3 separate regions of the Homo sapiens genome follow, and regions 1 and 3 are each reported to be linked to region 2. The links are microRNA targets in miRTarBase. Many come from high-throughput screens and were not tested one by one. Region 2 holds a microRNA gene; each other region holds the end of a gene's coding sequence.

Region 1 (4,248 bases), not on the chromosome of region 2:
GCTCAGGACTACTTGGCATACTCCATCTTCAACGATAGTAAGAATGGGATGGGATGATGGGAAAAAGGGAGATGTTAGTCAAAATGTACAAAGTTTCAGTTAAACAGTAGAAATAAGTTTTTGTGATCTAGTGCACAGCATGGTGACCATAGTTCATAACAGTATACTGTTGTCTTAGTCCATTTTGTGTTGCTATAACAGAATACCACAGATGGGGTAATTTGTAATGAACAGAAATTTATTATCTCACAGTTCTGGAAGCTGAGAAGTCCAAGATCAAGGCACCAGAAGGTTAGGGCCTGGTCTCTCTGCTTCAAAGATGGTGCCTGTTGCTGCATCCTCCAGAGAGGAGGAACACTTTGTCATCATATGGCAGAAAAGCAAAAGAGAAGGAACCCATTCCTGCAAGCCCTTTTTATAATGGCATTAATCCATTAAACATCCCCATTAGGCTCCACCTCCCAGTAACATTGTACTGGGCACTAAGTGTCAACATCAAATTTAGAGAAGACAAAAGCACTCAAACCACAGCGACTGTACACCTGAAAACTACTAAAGAGTATATCTGAAACATTTTCACCACAAGAAAGTGATGAGTAGATGAAGTGATGAATATGTTAATTAGCTTGATTTAATCATTCCCTCATGCATACATATATCAAAACATCACATTGTACTCCATAAATATACGCAATTATTATCTGTCAACTAAAAAGAAAGTAAAAAGTTTTTATTACAAAAAAGAAGAAGAATGGTAAGATGGCGAGTATGGCTGGGGTGCAGTGAGATGTCATAGGACCGTGAGGGCATTATGACTGGCCCTTAGTTTGAGATGAGAAACCAATGGGGAATTTAGAGCAGAAGAGTGGCACGATCTTACTTTGTTTTAAAAGCAACACTGTGTTGAGAATAGATGGGCAGAGAAGGGAAGGGCAGAAACAGGAAGACTAGTTACGAGGCCTTTACAATAATCCAGGTAAAAGATGACACTGGGACTAAGACAGTAGCAATGGAAGTATTGGGACATGGTCAATTCTGGATATAGTTTGAAGAGAGATACAACAGGAGTTACTGATGTAGTAGAGGTAGGATATGAGAAAAAGAGGGGAGTCAAGGGCAGTTCTAAAGTTCTTGGCCAAAGCAACAGGGTGAATGGTGGTGTCATTTACCTAGATGGGAAAGCCTGTGGAAGGAGTAAGTTTGAAAAGGCACGGAAATTGAGAGTTTATTGTGGACAATGGGAAGTTTGATACCTATTGTATATCTTAAACATCCAAATAGAGACATTGATTAGACTGTTGGAAATGAGACTGGGATTCACAGGGAAAGGTCTAGGTTGAAGGTATAAATTTAGGAGACATTGTGTAAATATTTAAAACTGGAAATTCTTTTTTTTTTTTTGAGATGTTATTTCTCTCTTGTTGCCCAGGCTGGAGTGCAATGGCACGATCTTGGCTCAGCACAACCTCTGCCTCCTAGGTTGAAGTGATTCTCCTGCCTCAGCCTCCCAAGTAGCTGGGATTACAGGCACATTGTACTCCATAAATAGACACATACAGCCTTCCGAGTAGCTGGGATTACATCACATTGTACTCCATAAATATAATAATTTTATAAAATTATAATAATTTTATAAAAATATAATAATTTTTGTATTTTTAGTAGAGGCAGGTTTAGTGGAGACAGGGTTTTGCCATGTTGGCCAGGCTGGTCTCGAACTCCTGGCCTCAGGTGATCTGCCTGCCTTGGCCTCCCAAAGTGCTGGGATTACAGGCGTGAGCCACCGCGCCCGGCCTCAAACTGGAAATTCTTGAGATCACCTAGTGGGTGAGTGTAGGGGAAAAGGTGGAAAAAAGGTCCAAGGAGTAAGCCCTGGGACACCCCAACACTTACGGATTAGAAAAAGGTAGATTCAGCAGGAACAAAGTCGAGAAATTGGAGGAAAACCAAGAAAGCATTTGTCGAAGCCAGTGAAGGAAATAGTCTAGGAATACTGATGAGAAGCTTAGTAAGAAGAATGAAAACTGGCTATTGGATTCACCACACAAAGGCTATTGATGATTTTGACAAGAGCAGTTTCCATGGAGTGGTGGGGGTGAATACTTAATTGTAGCTGGTTCATGAGAGAACTGGAAGGGAAGAATTAGAGGTAGCAACTCTTTTGAGGAGTTCTGCTATGAAGGGGAGAAGGAAAAGAGAACAGCAGTTCAAAGATGCAGAGAAAAAAGTTTAAGAGATTTTACAGCATATTTGTATTGCTAATAGAATAATTGGTCAGGAAAAAAATTGACAATCCAGAAAAAAGACACTAGGAGTCAATGTAAAGCTAGAGGGTTGGGCTTTGATAGGAATAGTGTTGGTTCATTCTTAGTAAGAGGGAGGAAGGAAGGCTATAAAAGCACCAATGCAACTGGGTTAGCAGATTTGGTGGTTGGGTGTTGGGGGATGTGGAAGTTTTCTTCTGATCTCTTTTAGATTCTTAGTAAAATAGGAAATACAGTAACCAGCAGACTGAGGATGGGAAGGGGATGCTGAAGATTGAGGATAAAGATATGTGAATAGATTAAAGAAATAAACAGGTAGTATTGATAAAACTTAACTGATTAGACATAGGAAAATGTGAGACAAAGAAAACAAAGACAGATTTCTGATTTGGCAACTGGGTGGAGAGTGGAGGTGTCTTTCATTCAGATAGGGAAGTGTGTGGGAGAAGCAGGTCTGGGAGGAGGGGGGTTTGATTCTAACATGGAAAGTTTTGTGCCAGTGAAATCCAAGTGGATAAAAGTGTCTGAAGCTCAGAAGAGAAACCTGAGCTTGAGATATCTCAGCTCCCTGATCTGGAAGTTGTCAATATTAAGATAGTAGGAAGTGGAGAGGCTTTTGTGGTTGCTGTTTTCTCTGAGAGGTAAAGGGACTGGTGGTTTGAAATCAGAGAAGGGTTGAAATAGATTCTGGAGAAGAACAGCAACATTGACAAGGAGATAGGGGGATCATCAGGTACTCTTAGGGGGCACAGTTAAAGGTGGAGCTCTTATGTTGAGTAGTTCCAGCCTTACCATTGCAGAGCCCTGGGGCCCACATTTGTTTCTGGAACTAAAACCACCAGGGGCCCAGTGTCCTTCCTGCTTCTTCCTGCTGAGCCTCCACATCAGGGTTCCATCTCACCACCCAGCAACGTTCCCTGACCTTGAAGCCTATCCTTTATCTAAACGCAACACGCTTTCATCCTTGCTTTCCTGGTTAACTCCTACCCACCTTTCTCTACTCAGATCAGGCCAGGACTTTTTCAGAAGCCTTCCTTGACTGTTCCCCACATCCCCTGCCATGTGAGCAGGAAGTTTCTTCTCTATACCCAAATAGCCCCTCAAATACCTATTACAGCATAAAACATACAGCACTGTATCACTGATTTACTCGGCTGCCTCTCCCACTGGACTGCAACAACTTGAGGGCAGAGTGTTTTCACCTTTATAATGATCACTACTTAGTAGGTAGCTCAATACATGTGAAATTAATATAGGAGAAAAGAACTAAAGTCCAAAACCGACACAATTCTACAGGGTCATGATGTCCCCAGCCCGTGTCACACAAAGATGCTTCTAACCTTAGAAACCAACTCACAAAATAGAGAAATATCCTTTTGGTCTCAATATTATACCCCTTTTCCGTTCAGGAAGAAATCTTAGTAAACCCACAGAAAGGAAATATCCTTACATTATATTAAAGTACATTACCCCTTGCTCTCTCCTCTTCCCAAACACACAAAGCAGGAGGCATTGTATAAAGGCACTTTATTTTAAAATCAACACATCCTGCTTTTATAAATCAGTTACTCTTCATTTCCAACTTCCATCACCTGAGTTTGAGAGCAGAGTGCGTGGTATTTTTCTGGGCTTAAGGTATAAACTGACATGGCATTCAAGAACATGTCCAGCGGGCAGAGCCCATCAGGGCAACCTCTCGGCACCTGCTCCTGCAGAAGAAACATAACTCAGCAGGTCCGCCGAGGAACCTGTCCTTCTGCTATTTCCAGCTAAGCCCAGAGATCTGAGAGGCTCTGATCCATGTGGTATACATGTGCATACATATTACAGACAGGAAGGCCCCACTACCCGGTGAGCTTCCAGAATAAAAGCACTATGCTCTGCTTGTAAAAGTCACTCAAAAAGTGTTGAATTGACTGGGAAGAAAGAGTCGAGTTACATCCCCGAGCTGGGAGAACCAACAGGCTCATCCCTGGGGCGTGCT
Region 2 (4,248 bases):
CTTTCCTCTCCCCTTCTCACCTTGAGGAGATAAAAATTCTCTAGGCAGGAAAAGAAATGGAAGCCAGTTAGAAAAACATTGAAATAAGGCCAGGCACGGTGGCTCACACCTATAATCCCAACACTTTGGGAGGCCAAAGTGGGCAGATCACTTGTGGTCAGGACTTCGAGACCAGCCTGGCCAACGTGGTTACACCCTGTCTCTACTAAAAATACAAAAATTAGCTGGGCATGGTGCTGGGCACCTGTAATCCCAGCTACTCAGGAGGCTGAAGCAGGAAAATCGCTTGAACCTGGGAGGTGGAGGTTGCAATAAGATTGTGCCACTGCACTCCAGCCTGGGCAACAGAATGAAACTCCATCTCAAAAATAAATAAATACATATAAATAAATTTTTTAAAAAAGAAAAATATTAAAATAAGGCAATAATATAAGGGGGTATCTGAAAAGGAACAAATGCTTGTTCCTTACTTAGGGTTAGTGACAATGGAAAACAGATAGAAGTAGAAGCTACAGACCCATTTAGGGGCCCCAGCCCCCTGCTCCTCCCCCTTCCTGGCTAAGGAAAGCATGAGCCTATGAGAGAGAAATCCTAGGAAGAACAAGACAGTTGAGACAATGTAGCAGCAGTAGTGGGTGCTGTGTCCTACACTGGATTCGTGGTCTCCTAATAGAAAATCTCTCAGAGGAAATGGGTCCACAGGGACCTGAGAGCTCTAAACAGCTATGAAATCTGCCAGGATATTTCTGTCCATGCTATCTGCATCAGTGAGTTTAAAATGTAATAGGAGAAAAAAAAGAGACAAAACATTAACATAATAATTGATACAGCATAGTTTTGTACAAAGAAACCTAAATCCAAATACTTGACTCAGTATTTTGAAGCTAGTATTTTAAACTTTACTGGGTAAAGTATCTGATTGACATTTCTGAACCTTATTTTTCTCATCCACAATGTGGGAGTGATAATATTTTCCTTGCAGAGTTATTGACAGAATTTGAATAATCTTGGTATATAGACAGTGCCTTACACGTAGTATATAAATATATAAGAAAACACTGCAGTTATGTTTATAATGGATTTATTAAAAAGAATGGATCATATTATATGAAAAGTACATTTGTTTTCCTTAGCCCTTTAGTGATTTAGGAGATTCAAGCGTAGACGTAAAAGTGAGTTTCTTTTCATATGTTAACTGGAGGATTTTTTTCTTTCTTGAGAGGCTGAGATTGGGTTGCTAAGAGAACTCTTAGGACAAGAAGTTGTAATATTTGACTTCGGTTTTTAACTCTCTAAGGGGTATATTCCCTCCTTATGTCCCATAAATTTTAAGTCAAGGTGAATTATATGCAACAGCAGTTTATCCATATTTACTTTGGGGAGGAGGTGGGGAGACTCCGGGAGAAAATAATTATAAATGCAGACTGGGAATTAGTAAGTGCAGGGAATCTGAACCAGTGGTGATCATGAAAACGTCCATCACAGAACACAGAGGATTTTTAGGGCAATGAAACTACTCTATTTGATACCACAATGGTGAATAAATATCATTATGCGCTTGCCCAAATCCATAGAATGTACAACACCAAGAATGAACCTTAATATAAACTATGGACTTTGGGTGATAATGATGTGTCAGTGTAAGTTCATAAGTTGTAGCAAATGTACCTCTGTCATGAAGGATGTTACTAGTGGGGGAGGCTATGCATGTGTGGGAACAGAGAGCATATGGGATACATCTATCTGTACTCTACAATTTTTCTGGGAACCTAAAACTTCTCTAAAATAAACTCTATTAAAAAAAAAGAAAAGAAAAGGTCAACAATAATGATCCCAAATATATAAAATTAAAACTGTAGTATAAAAATGGTCACATGAAAATGCATGAATGTGCTAAGAACTTTTCTGCAATAGGATTTAAAATAAATTTTATATAAATTTCAATGATTCATGAGCCAAGAACCCAGCATTCTGGAGGTGTGTGCATTTGTGTGTGTGTGTGTGTGTGTGTGTGTGTGTGTGTGTGTGTAAGGCTTACATTGAATGGCATTATAACCAGAGTCATACAGAAATACACAAATGCTCCCCTATTTAGAATCCTTCCCCAAGAAATACTGAGGAAAGCAAATATAATGGTAGTTGGATTTTACTGAAAGAATGTATTCAAAAAGTATTTATATAATGTTAAAATAGCATAGCTAAAATTAGTTTTATAAAATAGAGCAAATATATCTTTTTATCAGCTAAAAGTTCAAAGTGAAATCATCATTATTATATTATTATATTATTATTATAAACAGTTATAAATCAGGCTGCATGATTTTAAATTAAATGATTCTTAAAAATTGTTATCTGAATTATTTCAGATTACATACATAAAGTATGACTTCATTAATAGGTAATATCACATTGTTTAAATTTTACAAAATTTCCAGTCACAATGGTTCATGCCTGTAATCTCAGCACAAGGTGAGGGTCCCTTAAAGCCCAGGAGATGGAGACCAGTCTGTAGTCCCAGCTAGTAGGGAGGCTGAGGCAGGAGGATTGCTGCTTGAGCCCAGGAGTTCGAGGCTGCAGTGAGCTAGGACTGACTGCACCACTGCACTCGCTCCAGCCTGGGCAACACAGCGAGACCCCGTCTCTAAAAATAAATAAATAAATGAATAAATAAATAAAAATTACAAAACGTAAAAATCACGTAAAATATTTCAGGTTTGTACTTACCACATACAAACTAGAGATATGAAGAATTAAACATTACAAATAAAGCACTTCACACACAGTCTGGCCCATAGTAAGCAGTTTATAGAAGTTAACAAATTTGTGTTATTGTTATTTTCTGGAGTCCAAGACAAAATCCCATGATGAATGACACCACAAGGATGTAAGCAACAAAATTCAGAATATGAGAAGTTCTACTAGATTAAATAAAAAGATTTCTCCAGCAAACAATTTGCAAAAAAAGTTAAAAATAGAGAAAAGAAAAGCTATACACTTGAAAAAGACTGAAGAAATATAGTAACCAAACGCTGAGCTTTGTCTAGATTCATATTCAAACAAAACATCTGTTAAAAAATTTATATGAGGCAATCAGAAAAATTGACACTGAGTGTATTAAGGAATTATTTATCTCGTTTTAAATGTGTTAGTGGCATTGCTGTTATGTTTCTAAAAAGCCATTATATTTTAGATTTTCATAATAAAAATGTATAAATGAAATATGATACCTAAAAATATCTTCAAAATAATCCAGTATGTGCCTGTATGATAACTGGGTGGGTTTACAAAATTGCTCATGAATTGATTATTGTTAAAGCAAGGCTGTTGATACATGGAATTCTTCTCTGTACTATTGCACACAGTTGAAATTTTCTGTAATACAAAGGTTTTTTTTTTAAATGTATTCAGGAAAGTCCCATAAACATAGGCAGACAAGCATTCTGTTTGAAGTTATGTTAGTTTTTCAGTTTTTCTCATTTTTATCACATTTAGGAAACCCTGTCCAAGGCCTGCCCAAGACTGTAAGAACCTCTCAGGAATGCAACTATAAAGAATGTGTATGCAGGAACTAATAATAACAAAGGAAAGCAAAGTAATGCTTGCTTTATTATTGGCTGGACTAAGCCCCCAGACTTGTTTATATATTCACTAATTCATCAAAAATGCAAAAATGGTCATTGAGTACCAGTGCTACAATAAGTACTCATAGTTTGTTGAATGTTATTAAAATAATGTGAAAACAATTACATTCATTATCTTCATAGAACTTACACTCCAGTGGGAGGAAAATACATATATTACATAATTCCACAAACATAGTTACAAGGTCTGAAACATTTATAAAGAAAAAGAATGAGGTAAAATGAGAGAGTGTTGCACAGGGACCAGGTATGGTTTGGGGCAGTTTAGAAGTGGCTTGAAGAAATGTATCTTGAGATGAAATAAGGTGGTATACAGTAGGTAAAGGACAAGGTTGAAGAGGCCAGAGCAAATGTTTGAGAAACTCTTACAATATGAAAGAGAAGATGAGAATAAAATAACATGAAAATTATCACAGATTTAATAGAGAAAGTTCATGTAACAGCAAACAAGTTTAAAGTCATTCTAATTAGAATTCTTGATCTGTAAAAGTAATAATAGAATGCTAAAAACAATTGGAAAATTTAATAGAAAGATTGGAAAATTAAATCAAGAAAATCTCACAGTAATTTAAAAGGCAAAAAAAAAATGTAATATATGGTAGAAAAA
Region 3 (4,248 bases), not on the chromosome of region 2:
AGCACCTGGGAGGCTTCACTCCATTCCTAGAACTGGACTGATGTGTTTTCTAGTTTCAAGGCTTATATGAAACTTTTCAGGCACTTTTCAGAGTTTATACTGAATATAGGGTGTTATATATGTATATATATATATACTGAGTAGATAGCCAAATCTGAACATGCTGCTCTTTCCCGGGTGCCTCTCCTTTGCCAGTTTTTTGGACACTGAAAAAACAGGGAGCTTGACATAAATTTTGAAAGTTCAGGCTGGGCGTGGTGGCTCACACCTGTAATCCCAGCACTTTGGGAGGCCGAGGCGGGTGGATCACCTAAGGTTGGGAGTTCCAGAGCAGCCTGGCCATTATGGTGAAACCCCGTCTCTACTAAAAATACAAAAATTAGCTGGGTGTGGTGGCACGTTCCTGTAATCCCAGCTACTCGGGAGGCTGAGGTAGTCGAATCGCTTGAACCTGGGAGGTGGAGGTTGCAGTGAGCCGAGATCATGCCACTGCACTCCAGCCTAGGTGACAGAGCAAGACTCTGTCTCAAAAAAAAAAAAGAAAGTTCACTAATCTTTGGAGTAAACAAAGCAAATGTAAGACTTCTGAACGATTGTGTGATCTTCAAATGTTCATCAGCTAGAAAAGGTCTGTTTATTGTTTAAGAGTTACTCATTTGCCAGACATTTTTTATTTTGTAATTTCTGTTTTTTTTTTTTTTCTACCAGAGCCTACATTCATCAGTACACAAAATTTGGAATCGAAGAAGAGGACTTTTTAGACAGTTTCACGTCATTAGAGCAGGTTGTTGCCAGTTACTGTAATCTCTGATCTTGAACAATGGGAAAAGTATACCTTAAGGCATTTCTGGACTAAAATATTTTCAATACTATTTTCTCTGTAAAGTTTTCAAAGTTCTCCATCCTGGCTAACACGGTGAAACACCGTCTCTACCAGAAAATACAAAAAATTAGCCAGGCGCGGTGGCGGGTGCCTGTAGTCCCAGCTACTCGGGAGGCTGAGGCAGGAGAATGACGTGAACCCAGGAGGCGGAGCTTGCAGTGAGCCGAGATCGCGCCACTGCACTCCAGCCTGGGCGACAGAGCGAGACTCCGTCTCAAAAAAAAAAAAAAAAAAAAATGTTTTCAAAGTTCCATTCTGTTAAAGTAACCACGTAGAATGCTGAGTCTATTCTGCATACTATGCCCACAGAAAAGGAAGAAAACTTTTTAAAATGGAGAATCGCATGTTTTCAATGAAAACATTCACTTGGTATTTCATTTGTAAGAAAAAAAAATGGTGCTTTTATAAAGAACTTTGGGGAAACACTTTGCTGAAATGTTGGGACTCTGGAACTAGCCAAGAAAAGAGAATATTCTCTTTGTCTACATGTTCCTAAATCTTTACTCCAAAACAACTCCAAAAACAACTCACAAAGCATGAACCAAACTTTCACAGCATAATTTCAAGCTAAGGAATTGTAATTCTGTACTTAATATATTCATGTTTGAAATGAATGCTTTGAACCACAGGAGGGAGATGTTGTCAAATGCTACAGTGTGAACATGTATTTTGAATATTCTGTAACAGGGCAAGTTTCCACTCTAAGCAGCTATTTAAAAATAAATATGAGGATTTTGGTAATAAATGCTTATGCTTAAGTACAAAAGTAAATAGGTAAATGTGTACTTAGTGTGCTTTTCTTAAACTTTTTGGGCATGAGAAAATTGGCTCAAATTTTGTTTTGGATCTTGGAATGCCAGAGCAGATATTGATTTTATTCAATTATTGCTTTAAAATTACTTATAATGGGCTGGGCATGGTGGCTCACACCTGTAATCCCAACACTTTGGGAGGGCAAAGTGGGAGGATCACTTGAGGCCAGGAGTTTGAGACCAGCCTGAGAAATACAGTAAGACCCCCATCTCTCCAAAAAAAAAAAAAAATTTTAATTAGCTGGGTGTGGTGGCATACACTTGTGGTCTGAGCTACTTTGGAGGTTTGGGTGGGAGGATCACTTGAGCCTGGGAGGTCGAGGCTGCAGTGAACTGGTATCGTGCCTCTGCATTCCAGCCCGGGTGACAGAGTAAGACTGTCTCCAAAAAAAAAAAAAAAGAATGAAATTACTTATAGGTATTCAGCTGGTACAGATGATGGTTATATGCTTTTCAGTAAAAGGGGTAAGAATTTTCACCTAAATTTTTCACTAAGTTGAGAAAATTATCACCAAGGAAATATAGTTACTTGATGAAATTGACGCACAAGATACGGGTTTCACCCAAGACAAAACGTGCTTGGAAATTGACAACTGAGTTTGAAGGGAATGTTGTATTTCCATAAAACACATCACATGCAATATATTAACAAATGTAAAATGATTAACAAATAGGAACATTTGCCCTTTCTGCCAAATCTACCAATAGTGACTTTTATATGGAAAAATGACAGTTCACAGCTTCACTGGTTCTTCTTTTTCTTTCCATATGGAAATGATTACCTTTTTGCTGTTTTTCTTATCAACTGTTGCTATGATTTAAAATACTGAACCATATCTTATTTGTAAGGAATGTAAAAAGTGGTCGGTTCTGCTGCTAAAAGGCACACCCCGCTGCTGCATTTCGTTAAGCCAAGTACACTTGAAAAATAATTAGATCATAATTTTTACCAAACAAGTTAAAGTAATTGTTTAAGCATTGAAGAGATCCACAGACTGAAACAATTTCCCAGACTAAACCAGCATTCATGAAGATCTGTAACTGAGTATCTCACCAGGGGTTAATCTGATTCTGAGGAACCTTACTAGAAGTTAACTTGAAAGAAAGTCGTAAGTTGAAATCATTTGATATTTGAGAAAATTCATGAGGTACCAATAGGGGCAAGTATATTTCTAATTTGGCAACTCGTGGAATCATTAGCAGGTGAACATTAGAAGCAAATCCCAACTAGACAGAGCTCTGGGTCCATTTACTTATGCTATTTGACCCTTTTTTATGATCCACAACTGCATTATTTGATATGTATGGTTACCTATTACATATATATGTGTGTGTGTGTGTGTGTATGTATTTTTTTTTTTTTTGAGACAGCGTCTCGCTCTGTCACCCAGGCTAGAGTGCAGTAGCATGATCTCAGCTCACTGCAGCCTCAACCTCCCAGGCTCAAGCAATCCTCCCACCTTAGACTCACTAATAACTGGGACTATAGGTGTGCACCACCATGCCCAGCTAATTTTTGTATTTTTGGTAGAGACGAAGTTTCCTCATGTTGCCTGGGCTGGTTTCAAACTCCTGGGCTCAGGCTATCTACCTGCCTCGGCCTCCCAAAGTGCTGAGATTACAGGCGTGAGCCACCATACCTGGCCAATGCCTAAATATTTTAAAGCTTGGGTTAAAACATTCACATGGAAAATAATTTTTTCTTGTCTACTTGGAATAACAAAATTTTTGCTCTTAAAGTTGTGATTTTAAGTTAAAAATTAACACCAAGATGCTGATGTCAAAACTTCAGATGGAGTGGCATTGGAAATGTGCTTTGATTTGTGTGGAGATAATGGCCAGTCAGCCAGGAGGACAACATTGGCTCCCTTAGCTCCTGGGCATACAGATCCAGAAAACTTTGAAAGTGTAATTTCTTAGATTATGGGATAACTGGCACATTACGTTGTCAAACATTATCCTGCAGAGCCAGAATGCACCCCTGTGGACAATGAGCACAGTGTGAATGCATACTGTTTCTTATTGTCAAGCTCTTTCTCTCTTACCTCCCCAATCTTTCCTCAAGAGCTTAAGCTGTAGAACCTGTTTTTTCCCATGCATTCGCCACTTCCAGCCCTGGGATCTCCCCGAAAACTCCCCTCCCCTATCCACCCTTACTATTCAATCTACAACATCTTTCAACATCTTTCTCCTATATTTTACCCATCACTTAGAACTCACTAAGTATGCCAACAATTCACTATTATCAGCCAATTCATCCATTCAACCAGTATCATCTATTCAGTGCCAGGCACTGAGGAAGATGTTAAGGATACAGGGATCAATGCTACCTTGTCTGAAGAAGCTTTTTGGGATGTTTAGTGCTACAATTCTAGCTTCCTAATTATTGCTTGTTATCTTGCCTGTGTGCATATTCACCTTTTTTCCAGGAAAGAATGTGGTCCAAGAAAGAAAGAAAGAACAATGAACTCAGAGCTCTGGTCTGGGCTAGGCTTAAGTGTTGAAATGTCTCTTCACTGGCTCTGTAGGCTCTATAAACTCTACTTTGCAGTA

The links. Region 2 holds the annotated microRNA hsa-miR-3135b (GGCUGGAGCGAGUGCAGUGGUG, at 2,595-2,616, opposite strand). A microRNA usually pairs through its seed, bases 2 to 8, with sites in the 3' UTR of a target mRNA and lowers its output. Matches are read on the target gene's strand: a 7mer-m8 pairs with bases 2 to 8, a 7mer-A1 pairs with bases 2 to 7 and ends in A, and an 8mer does both.
Region 1: miRTarBase lists ACP6 as a target of hsa-miR-3135b. Seed matches in the 3' UTR shown: 7mer-m8 at 1,430-1,436.
Region 3: the mRNA of TUBD1 is a reported target of hsa-miR-3135b. Seed matches in the 3' UTR shown: 7mer-m8 at 1,066-1,072.

The regions. Positions count from the first base shown.
Region 1 is chr1:147,643,594-147,647,841 of GRCh38, forward strand. ACP6 (acid phosphatase 6, lysophosphatidic) reads right to left here. Exons shown (of 10, transcript NM_016361.5): 10 at 1-3,973. The coding sequence ends at 3,830. Among named protein-coding and RNA genes, the nearest start is that of ACP6, 25 kb to the right of the region's middle.
Region 2 is chr6:32,747,358-32,751,605 of GRCh38, forward strand. It overlaps MIR3135B (microRNA 3135b), which reads right to left and starts at 2,622; the gene lies at 2,555-2,622.
Region 3 is chr17:59,856,885-59,861,132 of GRCh38, reverse strand. TUBD1 (tubulin delta 1) reads left to right here. Exons shown (of 9, transcript NM_016261.4): 9 at 709-1,654. The coding sequence ends at 811. Among named protein-coding and RNA genes, the nearest start is that of MIR21, 18 kb to the right of the region's middle.